Regions from separate parts of the Homo sapiens genome. Here region 1 is linked to region 2. A link means that fine-mapping ties the variant in region 2 to the expression of a gene that starts in the linked region. Tissue or cell type: testis. Region 2 holds a variant in brackets; the other region holds the start of a gene. All regions are shown on one strand. Distances are between the middles of the regions.

Region 1 (6,959 bases), 43 kb before region 2:
CCACCACGCCCAGCCAAAAATTTGACATTTTTAATTTAAAAAAAAATATTGAGTCATGTAGCCAAAAAAAAAAAGAAAAGAGAAAGGAAAAAATAATAGCAATGGGGCCTCAGTATACTGCCCAGGCTGGTCTTGAACTCCTGGCTTCAAGTGATCCTCCCACCTTGGCCTCCCAAAGTGCTGGGGTTATAGGTGTGAGCCACTGTGCCAGGCCATTTTTTTTTCACTTTTTTTTTTGGAGACAGGGTCTCTGTCACCCAGGCTGGAGTGCAGTGGTGTAATCATGGTTCACTGCAGCCTTGACCTCCCAGGCTGAGATGATTCTCCCACCTCAGCCTCCCAAGTAGCTGGGATTACAGGCATGCTGCAGCACACATGGCTAAGTTTTTGTAGAGATGGGGCTTGCCGTGTTGTCCAGGGTGTTCTGGAACTCCTGGCCTCAAGGGATCTTCCTGCCTCAGCCTCCCAAAGTGCTAGCATTACAGGCGTGAGCCACTGTGCCCAGCTTGTTTTGTTTTTTTCATACATGCTCTCATTCTGTCACCCAGGCTGGAGTGCAGTGGTGCAATCATAGCTCACTGCAACCTCAAACTCCTGGGCTCAAGCAATCCTCCCACTTCAGCCTGACACCATAGGCACACCACCATACCCAGCTAGTTTAAATAATTTTTTTGTAGAGAAAAGGTCTTGCTATGTTGCCCAGGCAGGTCTCAAACTCCTGGCCTCAAGGGATTCTTCAGCCTCCCAAAGTGCTGAGATTACAGACATGAGCCACCATGCCTGGCCAAAAACAAATTAGATTAGAAAACAATAAAAAGTAGTGAGAAGTGATTTGACAATGCTGAGGAAAGAAATGGAAGGGCAAATAAAAAGCATTATGTAGATGAAATTCACATAAGGAACAACAAAAATAATCACTACAAGGTCACAATGAGGCCTGGAGAAATAATAAAAAATGAAATGAATACAAATGTGATTACAGAGAAAACCAGTAACTAAAGAAAGATAATCAAATACATATAATTAGTGTTCCTAAAGAAAAGAGCAAACACAGGCCGGGCGCAGTGGCTCACACCTGTAATTCCAGCACTTTGGGAGGCTGAGGCAGGCAGAGTACCAGAGGTTGGGAGTTCGAGACCAGCCTGACCAACATGGAGAGAAATCCTGTGTCTACTAAAAATACAAAATTAGCTGGGCGTGGTGGCACATGCCTGTAGTCCCAGCTACTCGGAAGGCTGAGGCAGGAGAATCGCTTGAACCTGGGAGGCGGAGGTTGCAGTGAGCCGAGATCGCACCACTGCACTCTAGTCTGTTGACAGAGCGAGACTCTGTCTTAAGAAAAAAAAGGAAGTTGGCCATTAATTCAAATAAAAACAAACAGCATGAGCCAAGAAAATGTGTCTACACTCAAAGCTGGCCTAGGGGCCACTATTTTTTAACTTAAGAAATGCCACTATTTCATGCCCAGTTCTTAGTATCTTTTAACTATGTCAATCCTTTTTAATTCACATTCATGGGCACGCATTAGGTGAAGCTAAACAAAGAATCTATGCCTAGAGGAAGACTCACACATGAAACAAGGTAGTAAGAGCCTATGAATTAGATGCTAAAAGCGCTGCGGTGGCAATCCGGGAAGGCTTCCCAAAAGAAATGACTTTTGAAGTGTGATACCCTACTTTGTTTTAACCTGAGTGACTCTCTCCTAGCAGAGAGAGAGCCGGACAGACTCCATTTTAGTTTCTCCACTGGCAGCCCCCTTTCACCTCCCTCCCTTAAGGCATAGCTAGTGTAAACTGACTCAAAGCACGTCCAGGAATGCACCTACTGATAAGATATTGAGGCAAGCTGCACCAGCAGCTCCTGGGGACGCGCTCGGTGGATGGCAAGCAAAACCCCTGCATTTATCTCTTTGTGATAGTTTAAGCCCGTGCAATTGGAACTGTTTATATTTTGTAACTGCATTTGTAACCAATTAATTTTTCAACTTTTTGCCAGTTCTGCTTCTGTAAAAATTGCTTCAGCTAAAATCCCCCCTCCCCTATTTAGACCACGGTATAAAAACAAAACTAGCCCCTTCCTCAGGGCCGAGAAAATTTTGGGCGCTAGCTGCCTCTCGGTTGCCGGCTAATAAGGACTCTTTAATTTGTCTCAAAGTGTGGCGTTTCTCTGTAACTCGCTTGGTCACAATAGAAGCTGCTCCTAAAAGCAATGTAGACCCTTACAAAGAGACCAGCCCACCTAAATCCCTCCCTTGTTTGAACTCTAACAGTCCTAATATTTTAGACTGAGTAGTAGAACATATATGAACAATACAGTTCATTCCTGTGGCTTAGTCTAGCCTCCCCAGCGGGGTCACTCGTGGGATGCAAAAACCAGATTTGGTTACATATACAAATATACCTGGCACAGATGTGGGCGAGGAATAATCAATTTATGCCTGACGGTGGATTCTGGGCCTCGGGAAGATGCCGTTAGCGGTACCCACAGGAGGGAACTGGAACAGGCAAGAGTAGCGGGACAGGGCCGGGAATGGGGCACGCCGAGACCAAGAAGCCGACCGAGAGCAAGAAGGCCCAGTCATGCGCACCCGGCGCCTACATCCTCCTGCGGTCCCCCAGGCCTCTCCCCATAGGCATATGAGCTCTGCTCCACTCCTCGCTTGCCGGTGGACGCAGGCGCCGCGGCCGCCAGCTCTGTGAACGCAGCGGGGTCTCACCTCCAGGCTACCCCCAACCTCCCGCTCGGTCGGGGGCCCCTCCACGGCCGCTATCACTGGGTCGCGGCTCCTAGCGCCACCATCTTGGACCCCGCGCCTGGGCCAGGCGAGAACTTCCGGTGCGCTCCCCGGGACTGCGGTCCCCCAGTCCGCGCCCCGCCCAGCCGTCCCCCGTCGGCTCCAGCCAATCCGCGCGCGCTCCCCTGGCCGTCTCCCACCGGATCAGGTGTCTCCTCTGCGCAGACTCCTCCACGACGCCAGTCGGCGCTGGCGTAGCTCGGCTCAGCCCGGCGGAGTCTGACTTCCGGAGGGCCAGCGGCGCGCTGGCTGGTTACCAAGGTTACCGCCGAGAGGCCGCGTCCTCAGCTGGTCCTAGACATGCGTGGCGTCGGGGCTGTGGCACGGTCGGGTCCGGGGTGAGTGACCCCTTCAAGTAACTACGTTTTTGTTCTGCCCTTTTGTTTTGTTTTTGAGATGGAGTCTCGCTCTTTCGCCCAGGCCGGAGTGCAATGGCGCGATCTCGGCTCACTGCAGCCTCCATCTCCCAGGTTCAAGCGATTCTCCTGCCTCGGCCTCCCCAGTAGTTGGGATTACAGGCGCCCACCACCACGCCCTGCTAATTTTTGTATTTTTAGTAGAGACGGGGTTTCGCCATGTTGGCCAGGCTAGTCTCGAACTCCTGTTCTGCCTGTTCTGTTTTCATCTTTTGTTATTGTTCCCTGCATGCATTTGTGGTCTCATTCATTGATGACTTCTATTTGCAATGCCCGGTCAAAGGCTAGGCGATACAGATCCCAACAAGGACAGCTTAATGTTTAAAAGTGTAAGTTCCGAAGTGAGAAAGTCAGACACTCAGAATCCTTGCCCCACCACTTAGGGGCTATGTGACTTTGAACAAGTTACCTATTAATAGCTTCTTCGCGCCTCCGTTGCTTCATTTGTAAAGTGAGGTAAATAATAGGACCGACCTCACTGACATATGTATGTGAAGTTTGCATGTGGCGAAGGCCAGATACATATTAGTTATTACTATGGAGATGATGTTGGTTCGCGTAGCGTAGGATCGTGGTAAGGGTTATATATGTATGTAAAGATGTAAGATGTCCAACCCCAAGCCTTTCCGAAGCAAAACTGTCAGTGCACTAGTCACTTTGGCTTCTCATATCTCTCTGTCCCAAACTTTGGGTTGCACGAATTATGCACGTTTCACTCTTGAATTTGTAAATGCAGCTACTACCAACTATTCCTTAATTTGCACAACTACATTTGAGATAGTATTTCATTGACTGTGTTACATTTTCATTGAAATACTGAGCCATGTCTCAAATAGACTTCAATTATAGTTGCTTTTATAGTTCCTTTTGCTTTACCTCTCTTAATAAGAGTGCACTAATAGAAGTTACTCTTTGGAATTTAGAAATGGGTTTTTAAGGCAGGGCACGGTGGCTCACACCTGTAATCCCAGCACTTTGGGAGGCCTAGGAGGCCGCATCACTTGAGCTCAGGAGTTCAAGACCAGCCTGGCCAGCATGGTGAAACCCCCGTCTCTACTAAAAATGCAAAACAATTAACTGGCATGATGGCAGGCGCCTGTAGTTCCAGCTACTCGGGAGGCTGAGGCAGGAAAATAGCTTGAACCCGGGAGGTGGAGGTTGCAGTGAGCCGAGATGGAACCACTTCACTCCAGCCTGGGCAACAGAGCAAGACACTGTCTCAAAAAAATAAAAAAAAAAATAGACTGTTCCGTGTCCTCTGCTCCTAGAGGCCCAGCCTCTGTGGCCCTGTGACCTGCAAGTATTGAGAGATCCACAGCTAAGACACCGGGATCCTCTGGGAGGCAAAAATGAGTTAGAACTCATAAGTGGGAGTTGAACAATGAGAACACATGGATAGAGGGTGGGGAACATCACATACCAGGGCTGGTGGGGGGTGGGGGGCTGGGGGAGGGATAGCATTAGGAGAAATACCTAATGTAAATGACGAGTTGATGGGTGCAGCAAACCAACATGGCACATGTATACCTATGTAACAAACCTGCACGTTGTGCACATGTACCCTATAACTTAAAGTATAACAAATAAATAAAATAAAATAAATGGGTTTAAAAAAAATCGTACAGGCTGGGCGAGGTGGTTCATGCCTGTAATCCTAGCACTTTGGGAGGCTGAGGCGAGTGGATCACTTGAGGTTAGGAGTTCAAGACCAGCCTGGCCAACATGGTGAAACTCCGTCTGTACTAAAAAATAAAAAAAATAAAAAAAAATTAGCCGCGCATGGCAGCATGAGCCTGTAGTCCCAGCTACTAGGGAGGCTGAGGCGGGAGAGTGGCGTGAACCCAGGAGGCAGAGCTTAAGTAAGCCAAGATTTTGCCACTGCACTCCAGCCTGGGCGATAGAGCAAGACTCCGTCTCAAAAAAAAAATAAAATTATCTGGATGTCGTGGTGCGTGCTTGTAGTCTCAGCCACCTGGGAGTCTGAGGCAGGAGAATCGCTTGAATTGGAGAAGCGGAGGTTGCAGTGAGCCAAGATCGCGCCACTGCACTCCACCCTGGGTGACAGAGCGAGACTCTTCTCAAAAAAAAAGAAAAGAAAAAAGAAAAAAGAAGTGGTGTAGATCGTGAAAGTATTAAAAGGGAAAATATTTGTAACATGCATGATAGGAAAAGGGATAACATGCATGACATAAAAGAGCTCCACATGACTTCAGGTTCCCTGAGAGTGCCTTGGGTTTTCCTCAACATTCACTGTATCACCAGTGCCCGGCACAGAGCCAGCACTCCATACATATTTGTAGAATGAATAAATTACATAATGAATCCATGCTGCTGTCAGGGGTAGCATGTGAACTCTAAAGGAGATCAAAAAGAAGAGCTATTCTTTTTAAGACTAAAAAGCCAAAATAACCACTTTTGGCAAGACTTATATATTTCTCAATAAAAAAATGCAGCTGCTGTCTTCCCCACACCCACTGCCTCCCATTTTCATTTTTCTGGCTTATGCAGATCTCAGTTCTTAAAATAAATTTTTTTAAACTTTATTTTGTTATTTTAAAAGTAGTATAAGAATTACAAGAAAACATTCGTACACATGTAAAATGGTTCTGACGACAACTAACCCTGACAGATTTTTTTTTTTTTTTTTTTTAAGAGACAAGGTCTCACTCTGTCAGTGGCATGATCATAGCTCACTGCAGCCTCATCCTCCTGGGCTCAAGTGATCCTCCAGCCTTCTGAGTGGCTGGGACTACAGGTACTGCCACCATGCCTGGCTAATTTTGTTTTTAGTTTTTTGTAGATATGGGGTCTGCCTAGATCGACCAGGCTGTTCTGGAACTCCTGGCTTCAAGCAATCCTGTCACCTTAGACTCCCAGAGTGCTGGGATTACAAGCATGAGCCAAACCTGCCACCACTCCTGGCCTACCAGATTTCTTTTCTTTTCTTTTCTTTTTAACTGAGATGGGAGGCTCCACTCTGTGGCCCACGCTGGAGTATGGCGGTGCAATCACAGGTCAGTGCAGCTTCAAACTCCCAGGCTGAAACAATCCTCCCACCTCAGCATCCCAAGTAGCTGAGACCACAGGTGCACACCACAACACCCAGAAAATGTTTGTACTTTTGGAGAAACTGAGTCTCACTATGTTGCCCAGGCTAGTCTTGAACTCCTGGGCTCAAGCAATCCTCCCATCTCAGCCTCCCAAACCCAAACTGCTGGGATTTCAGGCGTGAGCCACCGTGCCCGGTCTTGGAGCTTATTTTATTTTATTTTATTTTATTTTATTTGAGACAGAGTCTTGCTCTGTCACCAGGCTGGAGTGCAGTGGTGTGATCTCAGCTCACTGCAACCTCTGCCTCCTGGGTTCAAGCGATTCTCCTGCCTCAGCCTCCTGAGTAGCTGGGACTACAGGCGCGCACCACCACACCTGGCTAATTTTTGTATTTTTAGTAGAGACGGGGTTTCACCATGTTGGCCAGGATGGTCTCGATCTCTTGACCTCACGGTCTGCCTGCCTCAACCTCCCAAAGTGCTGGGATTACAGGCATGAGCCACTGAGCCTGGCCCTCTTTACTGTCTTATGCGGTCACTCAACACAATACTTCTGACACCAGATGGGTGGGGGCTTTCTCCACATACTGAGCAATTCTCTAGCAGACACCAGATAGCTGTCCTCTAATTCAATTCAATCTGACACTATCTACCTGGAGATAGTGTTAGATCCCGCAGTCCCACAAGACTACTGCCCAC
Region 2 (8,217 bases):
TATCCAGTTCAAGCCACTTATGACCATCAATCCTTCAACTTGGTCTGTGTGAGTGTCCAGTAGGTGACGTTTGATGTCAGAGCGCCAAAAACTCCATCTTCCATCATGCTAATGCCACCATTTTGTGAACCTGCATCCTATGAAGAACGATGAAGCTTGACTAGGCTTGCACAGATTGCCGATGTCCTACTTTTCCCTCCAATCACCTTCCCCACACCTTAGGCCACCTGCTTCTTTGTCCCATAAACGTCTCTAAACCCCATCTTCGAGGAAGTGGGTTTGAGACCTGTTTTCCCATCTCCTCACTTGGCTGCCTCATGAATAAATGCATTCTGTGCTGCAAAACTGGTCATCTTGGCGGGACGCGGTGGCTCACGCCTGTAATCCCAGCACTTTGGGAGGCTGAGGCGGGCGGATCACGAGGTCAGGAGATCAAGACCATCCTGGCTAACACAATGAAACCCTGTCTCTACTTAAAAAATACAAAAAATTAGCCAGGCATGGTGGCAGGCGCCTGTAGTCCCAGCTACTCGGGAGGCTGAGGCAGGAGAATGGCGTGAACCCGGGAGGCGGAGCTTGCAGTGAGCCGAGATTGCGCCACTGCACTCCAGCCTGGGCGACAGAGCGAGACTCCGTCTCAAAAACAAAAAAAAAAAACTGGTCACCTCAGTGATTGGCTTACTGTGCGATGAGCAGAATGGGCCTCATTTGGTATCAAGAGGAGGAGCTGATAGAAAATGCTCAGGGATGGGCTGGCAAAGACATTTTCAGAGCAGCGCCGTGTTATGTTCTGTGTGCAGTTGTTTGCGCTGATGCGTTACAAGCCCCTCTGGTGGTCCCCCGCTGAGTCTTTGGTAAAGTCTGCTGCATCTGCCAATTCTTTTGTGAGCAGATTTGTTCTAGGGGTGTGGGGGACTAAGAAAGGGGTGGAATATAAACAGTGCAGTGTAAACAGTGCAGTATAAACAGTGCAGTATAAACAGTATAAACAGTGCAAACAGTGCAGTGTAAACAGCGCAGTGTAAACAGTTTTACCCACAGAGGCTGCAGGCCCATTGCTGACCATGGAAAAAGAGGTGGGCTCCTCGGGAGTCCACAGAAGTCCTGGGGAGGGCTTTGGACTTCGGCAGGCCTGGAATGAGGGTTCGAACTAATCTCAGTCTAGATCTCGAGGGTCTGAGAGGCTGTAGAGAACATTTAGGCCGGTTGGCATGAGCAGTTCTTGCCCCAGTTCACCTCTAATTCCCCGACTGTTGCTGTTCATGCTAAGTGAGGCCTTGTTCCCACTCGTTCTTCTTCTTTTTTTTTTTTTGAGATGGCGTCTTGCTCTGTCACCCAGGCTAGACTCCACTGGTGCAATCTCAGCTCACTGCAACCTCTACTTCCTGGTTCAAGCTATTCTCCTGTGTCAGCCTCCTGAGTAGCTGGGATTACCGACACGCACCACCATACCCGGCTAATTTTTGTGTATTTTTAGTAGAGATGGGGTTTTGCCATGTTGGCCTGGCTGGTCTCAAACTCCTGACCTCAAGTGATCCACCTGCCTCGGCCTCCCAAAGTGCTGGGATTACAGGCGTGAGCCACTGAGCCTCGCTCCACTTGTCCTTCTCACTGATGTCAGCACCAGAAATGGCCATGTGGATAGTCACTGGCAACTTAAAACCCAAGTGTGCATGGGGAAGTGCACGGCAGGGTCATTAAAAGGAGTCCAGCCTCTCTTCTTCCCTTCTCTATACTTTCACTTCTGGAAAAGACCGGAAACCTTGCCTCATTCCTCTTTCTCCCATGGCCCCATCCCCACCCCGCTTCAGCCCATCAGCCTCCAAATGTAGTCCAAGTCCTCATCTCTGTACCTGGACCATTGCATTTTCGCTGGCCCCTAGCCCCCACTGGGCTCCCCACTGGCTGCCAAATACCAGTGTGACCCTGTCCCTTCCTTGCTTTAAGCCTCTCAGTAGTTTGTTTGTTTGTTTTTGAGATGGAGTCTTGCTCTGTCACCAGGCTGGAGTGCAGTGACATAATCTTGGCTCACTGCAACCTCCACCTCCCGGGCTCAAACGATTCTCCTGCCTCAGCTTCCCGAGTAGCTGGGGCTATAGGCGCCCACCACCATGCCCAGCTAATTTTTGTATTTGTAGTAGAGACAGGGTTTCACCATGTTGGCCAGGCTGGTCTTGATCTCTTGACCTTGTGATCTGCCCACCTTGGCCTCCCAAAGTGCTGGGATTAGAGGCGTGAGCCACCATGCCCCGCCTGCCTCTCAGTAGTTATTTACCACTGAAGCAGAGTGAAGCCTGTGCTCCACATTGCTTCATGGCCAAGACCTCAGGGACAAGTGGACACACCAGGCAGTGGGAGTGGATATGGCAAAGCCAAACCCAGATCTCTTCTCAAAATAATTTTCCAGAGGGCAAAAGCAGATGGCTACACCGAGAACTCACGCCAGCCCAACACACTTTGATCTCGAGGCCTCTGGAAGGGAAGGTGCCTAATGAACTACTGAAAGCCAGAGATGCAATGACAAAGGTACCAAGACTGGAGGTGATCCAGGTCTTTCATCCAAGAGCCCCAAGACGTAGCCTAAATTCATGCTACGGTAATCCCAGCACTTTGGGAGGCCGAGGCGGGCGGATCACCTGAGGTCAGGAGTTCGAGAGCAGCCTGGCCAACATGGTGAAACTCCGTCTCTACTAAAAATACAGAAATTAGCCAGGTGTGGTGGCGGGTGCCTGTAATCCCAGCTACTCAGGAGGCTGAGGCAGGAGAATCGCTTGAACCCGGGAGGCGGTGGTTGCAGTGAGCCGAGATCACGTCACTGCACTCCAGCCTGGGCGACAAGAGCGAAACTCCATCTCAAAATAAAATAAAAATAAATAAATTGACACAGTCAGTGCCTCGCTCCCACCCCCACCTCCAGCATAGCACCATGACAGTCTTCTCACATAACAAGTCCCAAAACACACCATCGGCATCCAGAAAGTGAGAGTAACTCGTTACAGTTGAGACCTCTCACTCCCGGTCATTATCTCATTTCAATCCAAGAGGTAGACTTCTTCATCGCCCCTGACATACACATGAGGAAAAGGCCCAGAGAGGTGAAGTGATGCCTCAGGTCACTCAGCCAGTTACCAGTAGAGCAGATCCTTCAATGCAAGTTTTTCTCCAACCCTACACAGCAGTCGTACCAGGGCCCCAGGCTGCAATCCCCTGGCCCAGTGCTGATCGGTGGCTCCCAGGGACACGCCCTGATGCCAGCGCTGGCAGATGTCTGCTGTGAAGAGAGCAGGAAACTGTCCCTTGGAAAGCTGAGATGCTTACCTGAACTGTGAAAGTATCCATATGTGAGCAGCTAAGGAGACAGCAGTGGCTGGAGTGCTGCAGCTCAGGCACAGCTGGTGAGAGGCATTCCTCACTCACAGGCCTTCACCCACTGCTAGAGACAGTGAGCCCCATCCTGACCACTTCCCCTTTCTAGTCAGCCCACGGGGCAGAGACCCTGGCGTCATCTCTAGGCAACCATCCCTTTTCCAGGGAAGCTCATGACCCACGGCTGTCCAGAAGCCAGAATCTTCTCACTGCCCCGTGTCGCTCC[C/T]GCAAGGCCTACCAGAGGACCCTCATGGTGTGGTAGGGGGTCCTGGCAGGGGCCAGGGGCCAGGGTGGAGACTTGGCAGTGGGGGTGGGTTTGGTGTCCCCACAGACGAGTTTGCCGTGAGCATTCCTGGATGTGGCAACCTCAGTCTCAAGAAGAGCGACAGGACGCCAGCTCCCATGCAGAGACAGATCCAGGTAAGAAACCAGCTCATGTGTGACAAACTCACCATCTCACCATGAAGGTGACTCTTGAAAGCTCCTGTGCACCTTGGAACTGCTGAGACATCTTCTGCTTGGAGGAGGCAAGGGACAGGCTTCCTGTTTCTAAAGGCGTGTGAGTGGCGACCTTGAGAAATGTGGCCAGTGGAGCATTTTGACTGAGTTGGGTCCCCTCGTGCAATACTGTGAGACAGAACTCCCAGCGAGGCCCACGGCCTCTGACCATGGGGGTTGGAGTGGGGAAACCAATTAGCCATTTTGTTGAATTGGCTGGTTCTGACTCAAATGAGCAGTCACATTAGTAAAAATAGGCAAACGGATGTGCATTGTATTTGCCCAGAGCGAATGAGTTGTTATCCATTTCAGTAATAATGATAACCAGATATGTCTGATAAATATCTGATAATGTCTGATATATGTCTGGTAAATTTAACAAACACCGGGCTCTGGCTGGGTGCGGTGGCTCACACCTGTAATCCCAGCACTTTGGGAGGCCAAGGCGGGTGGATCACCTGAAGTCAGTAGTTCGAGACCAGCCTGGCCAACATGGTGAAACCCCATCTCTACTAAAAATACAAAAATTAGCTGGGCATTTTGGTGTGAACCGGTAGTCCCAGCTACTCAGGAGGCTGAGGCGGGAGAATTGCTTGGACCCGCGAGGTGGAGGTTGCAGTGAGCCAAGATCACACCATTGCGCTCCAGCCTGGGCAACAGAGCAAGACTCTATCTCAAACAAACAAAACAAAACATCTGGCTCAGAAGATTCCTGATTTGCAGTGTTTACTAATTTCTTTTTTCTTTTTCTTTCTTTCTTTCTTTTTTTTTTTTTTTTTTGAGATGCAGTCTCACTCTGTCGCCAGGCTGGAGTGCAGTGGCTCAATCTCAGCACACTGCAACCTCCGACTCCCAGGTTCAAGCAATTCTCCTGCCTCAGCCTCCCAAGTAGCTGGGACTACAGGTGTGTGCCACCGCATCCGGCTAATCTTTGTATTTTTAGTAGAGACAGGGTTTCACCATGTTGGCCAGGCTGGTCTCGAACTCCTGACCTCAAGTGATCCACCTGCCTCGGCCTCCCAAAGTGCTGGGATTACAGAGTTGAGCCACTGCACCTGGCCAAGGCCTGAACTCTTTCTTCTTAGGCTCATCCAAAGTTTAGCTGCTAAAAAACCTTCCTAAAAGCCAATTTAAAATTTTCTTCTAGGCCGGGCACAGTGGCTCACGCCTGAAATCCCAGCACTTTGGGAGGCCAAGGCAGGCGGATCATGAGGTCAGGCGTTTGAGACCAGCCTGGCCAACATGGTGAAATCCCGTCTCTACTAAAAATACAAAAATTAGCCAGGCATGGTGGCAGGTGCCTGTAGTCCCAGCTACTTGGGAGGCTGAGGCAGAAGAATCGCTTGAACCTGGGAGGCGGAGGTTGCAGTGAGCCGAGATCGAGCCACTGCACTCCAGCCGGGGTGACAGAGCAACACTCCGTCTCAAAAAAAAAAAAAAAAAAAATTCTCTTCTGAGGGGTGAATAAATGCTTCTGTGGATAGAGCTCATCCTAGGCTAACAAAGCTGTGACTTCTTGGTTTGTGTTTCATTCATTCATTCAATAAATTACTCAATAAATTATTTTGCTAACCTTTAAGGACCTCAGTTCAGCTGTGATATAGTAAACTCTGTAGCCCTACTATTTCTAACAATGCCTTTTGCACAGCAAGTTCAAGCCTGAGGTGTCAGGTGATCAGAATTCCAGGCCCGGTTTGACAAAACTTTCTTTGTGAATCCTTCCCTTCTCTGAGCCTCAGTTTCCTTGTTGTAAAATGAAAGAATTCAATTGACAAATATGAAAGTGCTCCAGGGATTTTGCCATCTGCCTTCAAGAAAGTCCCGCAAAGTGTAGGAGGAAGTTGAAGCCATAATATGATGCAGGCTAAATACAATGACCTTCAATTTGTGCCAGACCCTGTGCTCAACAAGTAGAGACTCAGAACTGGGCAAGTCATTCATGGGTAGAGCACATGGCACATGTTCTACAGGACAGAAGGCACATAAGTTATTACTATGCAAAGTGATGAATGCTAGTGCTGTGGAAGCACAAAAGTGGGAGAGAAGAAAGGGTCTGAGTGGTAGCATTTGAACTGGGCCTTGAAGGATGTGTAGGAGCTCACCAAATGGACAGAATGTGGACAGACACAAAGCAGCCATAGTATTTGGAGAGAAAGAGATGGTTGCATGGCTGATCAAGAGTGAATGTGTTGGGCAGTCAGAGGCTTGAGAGCAAAGTTTAGGGACACACACCACGGCATCTGGATCTACCCACTTCCTTGCTATCTACATTCTTCCCCGACTCCACCATTTGTCTTTCCACCACAAGAGGAGGGCAGGAAGTTGGGGCGGTTGTGTTCTTTCTGCACATCTGAAATGCCACCTGCTGGTCTGGGCAACTAAAGAGGTCCCTGAGGGCCCTAGATTAGCGGCTGGACCAGAGGGTGTCAAGGAGAATGAAGGGCACCCTCTAGTGGTCACCTGTGGTGCTTTCTCCTCAGGATTCTGGTCCCTCTGACCTCCCCGTAGGGATGGCTGGACACACAAGATGTTCACCTCTTAAAGCTACAGAGACCATCAGGCTAGAGGACACTCAGAAGGGATTCCAGTCCACCCTTCATCTCATGACTCAACCTTTTTGTCAACATCCGGGTGGCACCCAGCTTCTGCCGTTTTGTTTCTTCTCACTCAGTCATCTAAGTCATGTGTAAAATGAGGTGTTATTCTTTGTGCCACTCACAAGTGTCAATTAATCCCCATCATGAGAAAAAAACTGAAGAAAGAGAAATCATAAGATACAACATATAATTAGAACATTAATAGATTTTATTGCAGTTTTTAAAAAGGTGGGGGTTTTTGTTTGTTTTTGTTTTTGTTTTTGAGACAGAGTTTCGCCCTTATTGCCCAGACTGGAGTGCAATGGCGCGATCTTGGCTCACTGCAACCTCCACCTCCTGGGTTCAAGCAATTCTCCTGCCTCAGCCTCCAGAGTAGCTGGGATTACAGGCATGCGCCACCATGCCCTGCTAATTTCGTACTTTTAGTAGAGATGGGGTTTCTCCATGTTGGTTAGGTGGCTGGTCTTGAACTCCTAACATCAGGTGATCTGTCCACTTCAGCCTCCCAAAGTCCTGGGATTACAGGCATCAGCCACCACTCCGGGCACAATAACTCATCTTTAAAGAGCTCTGAGAGCAATATGGGTGGCCAAAGCACTCAGGTGGAACCAGAAGTCATCACTAAGCAACCGTGGCTGCTTTGTTTGTCCCTAACAATAGCCAAGCAGATGTTGTAGCTCCTCTGTCTCCCACCCTGGCCCCATGACATTGAGGTGGGGTCGTTCCAGCTCAGATGTAAAAAGGCAAGTGTATAAGTATTTGGGGTTGTGGCAGGAGGCAGCCGTGTCTTGTGTATGAAGGGAGTCCCTGCCCACTTCTCCCCATTTCTGGAGGTAAAGATTCCCATGAAAGGTACTAGGAGCATTGGGCCCCTAAACCCCAGAACCCATGAGTATGTTATTTTAGATGGTGAAAGGGATTTTGCAGATATGACTAAGGATTTTGAAGTGGGGAAGTCATGCAGGATTATCGACATGGACCCCATGTAATCACAAGATCCTTCTGAGAGGGATACAGGAGAGTCAGGGTCAGTGGCAGGGGATGTGCTGGCAGAGGCAAGAGACTGGGGAGATCCGAAGAAGGGGTCTCGAGCCAAGAAATGCAGGCAGTCTCAAGGAGCTGGTAATGGCTGGGCAATGGATTTTCCCCTGGGACAGGGATGGAGAGACAGCAGTGATTTCAGTTCTCACTCTTGAACCTTCTCTCTTCTTCGTTCCCAAACATGAGTCCACCAGCCCCATTACCACTCAACTGACTGGGAGCCACATCAACCATAACTCTTATGATTTACCAGTTGTAATACTTAAGCATTTTCTGTGGCCTGGCAATTTATTTATTTATTCATTTATTTTTGAGACGGTCTCACCCTGTCACTCAGGCTGGAGTGCAGTGGTGCAGTCGTGGCCCAACGCAGCCTCGAACTCCTGGGCTCAAGCGATCCTCTCACCTAAGCCTCCCAAGTAGCTGGGACCATAGGCATGCACCACCACACCTGGCTAATTTTTAAATTTTTTGTAGAGATGGGGGTCTCGCTATGTTTCCCAAGCTGGTCTCAAACTCCTGGCCTCAAGAGATTTTACCGCCTCGGCCTCCCGAAATGCTGGGATTACAGACATGAGCCACTGTGCCTGGCCTGGCAATTTAACCCAACTCAGTCATCTCTCCTCTGGACACTCTCCCCATGACATACTTTGCAATGGTTTTAAAATATGCTCATACATTTTTTTGACACTCCTCCCATTGAGCTGTGGGAATC

The links. PIP is the estimated chance that this variant, and not a neighbour inherited with it, causes the effect.
Region 1: ZNF594-DT starts here. The variant in region 2 is fine-mapped to the expression of ZNF594-DT in testis (GTEx, PIP above 0.99). The same link has a PIP of 0.9 or more in whole blood.

What each region holds. Positions count from the first base shown.
Region 1 is chr17:5,189,032-5,195,990 of GRCh38, forward strand. ZNF594-DT (ZNF594 divergent transcript) reads left to right here and starts at 2,976. Exons shown (of 6, transcript NR_152840.1): 1 at 2,976-3,132. It overlaps ZNF594 (zinc finger protein 594), which reads right to left and starts at 2,837. Exons shown (of 2, transcript NM_032530.2): 1 at 2,717-2,837. RefSeq lists a silencer at 2,772-2,971.
Region 2 is chr17:5,231,417-5,239,633 of GRCh38, forward strand. SCIMP (SLP adaptor and CSK interacting membrane protein) reads right to left here and starts at 3,444. Exons shown (of 5, transcript NM_207103.3): 1 at 3,319-3,444. The coding sequence starts at 3,339. ZNF594-DT (ZNF594 divergent transcript) reads left to right here. Exons shown (of 6, transcript NR_152840.1): 6 at 3,698-4,587. RefSeq lists enhancers at 3,686-3,885, 5,831-6,130. The variant C/T (reference allele first, on the strand shown) is at 3,593.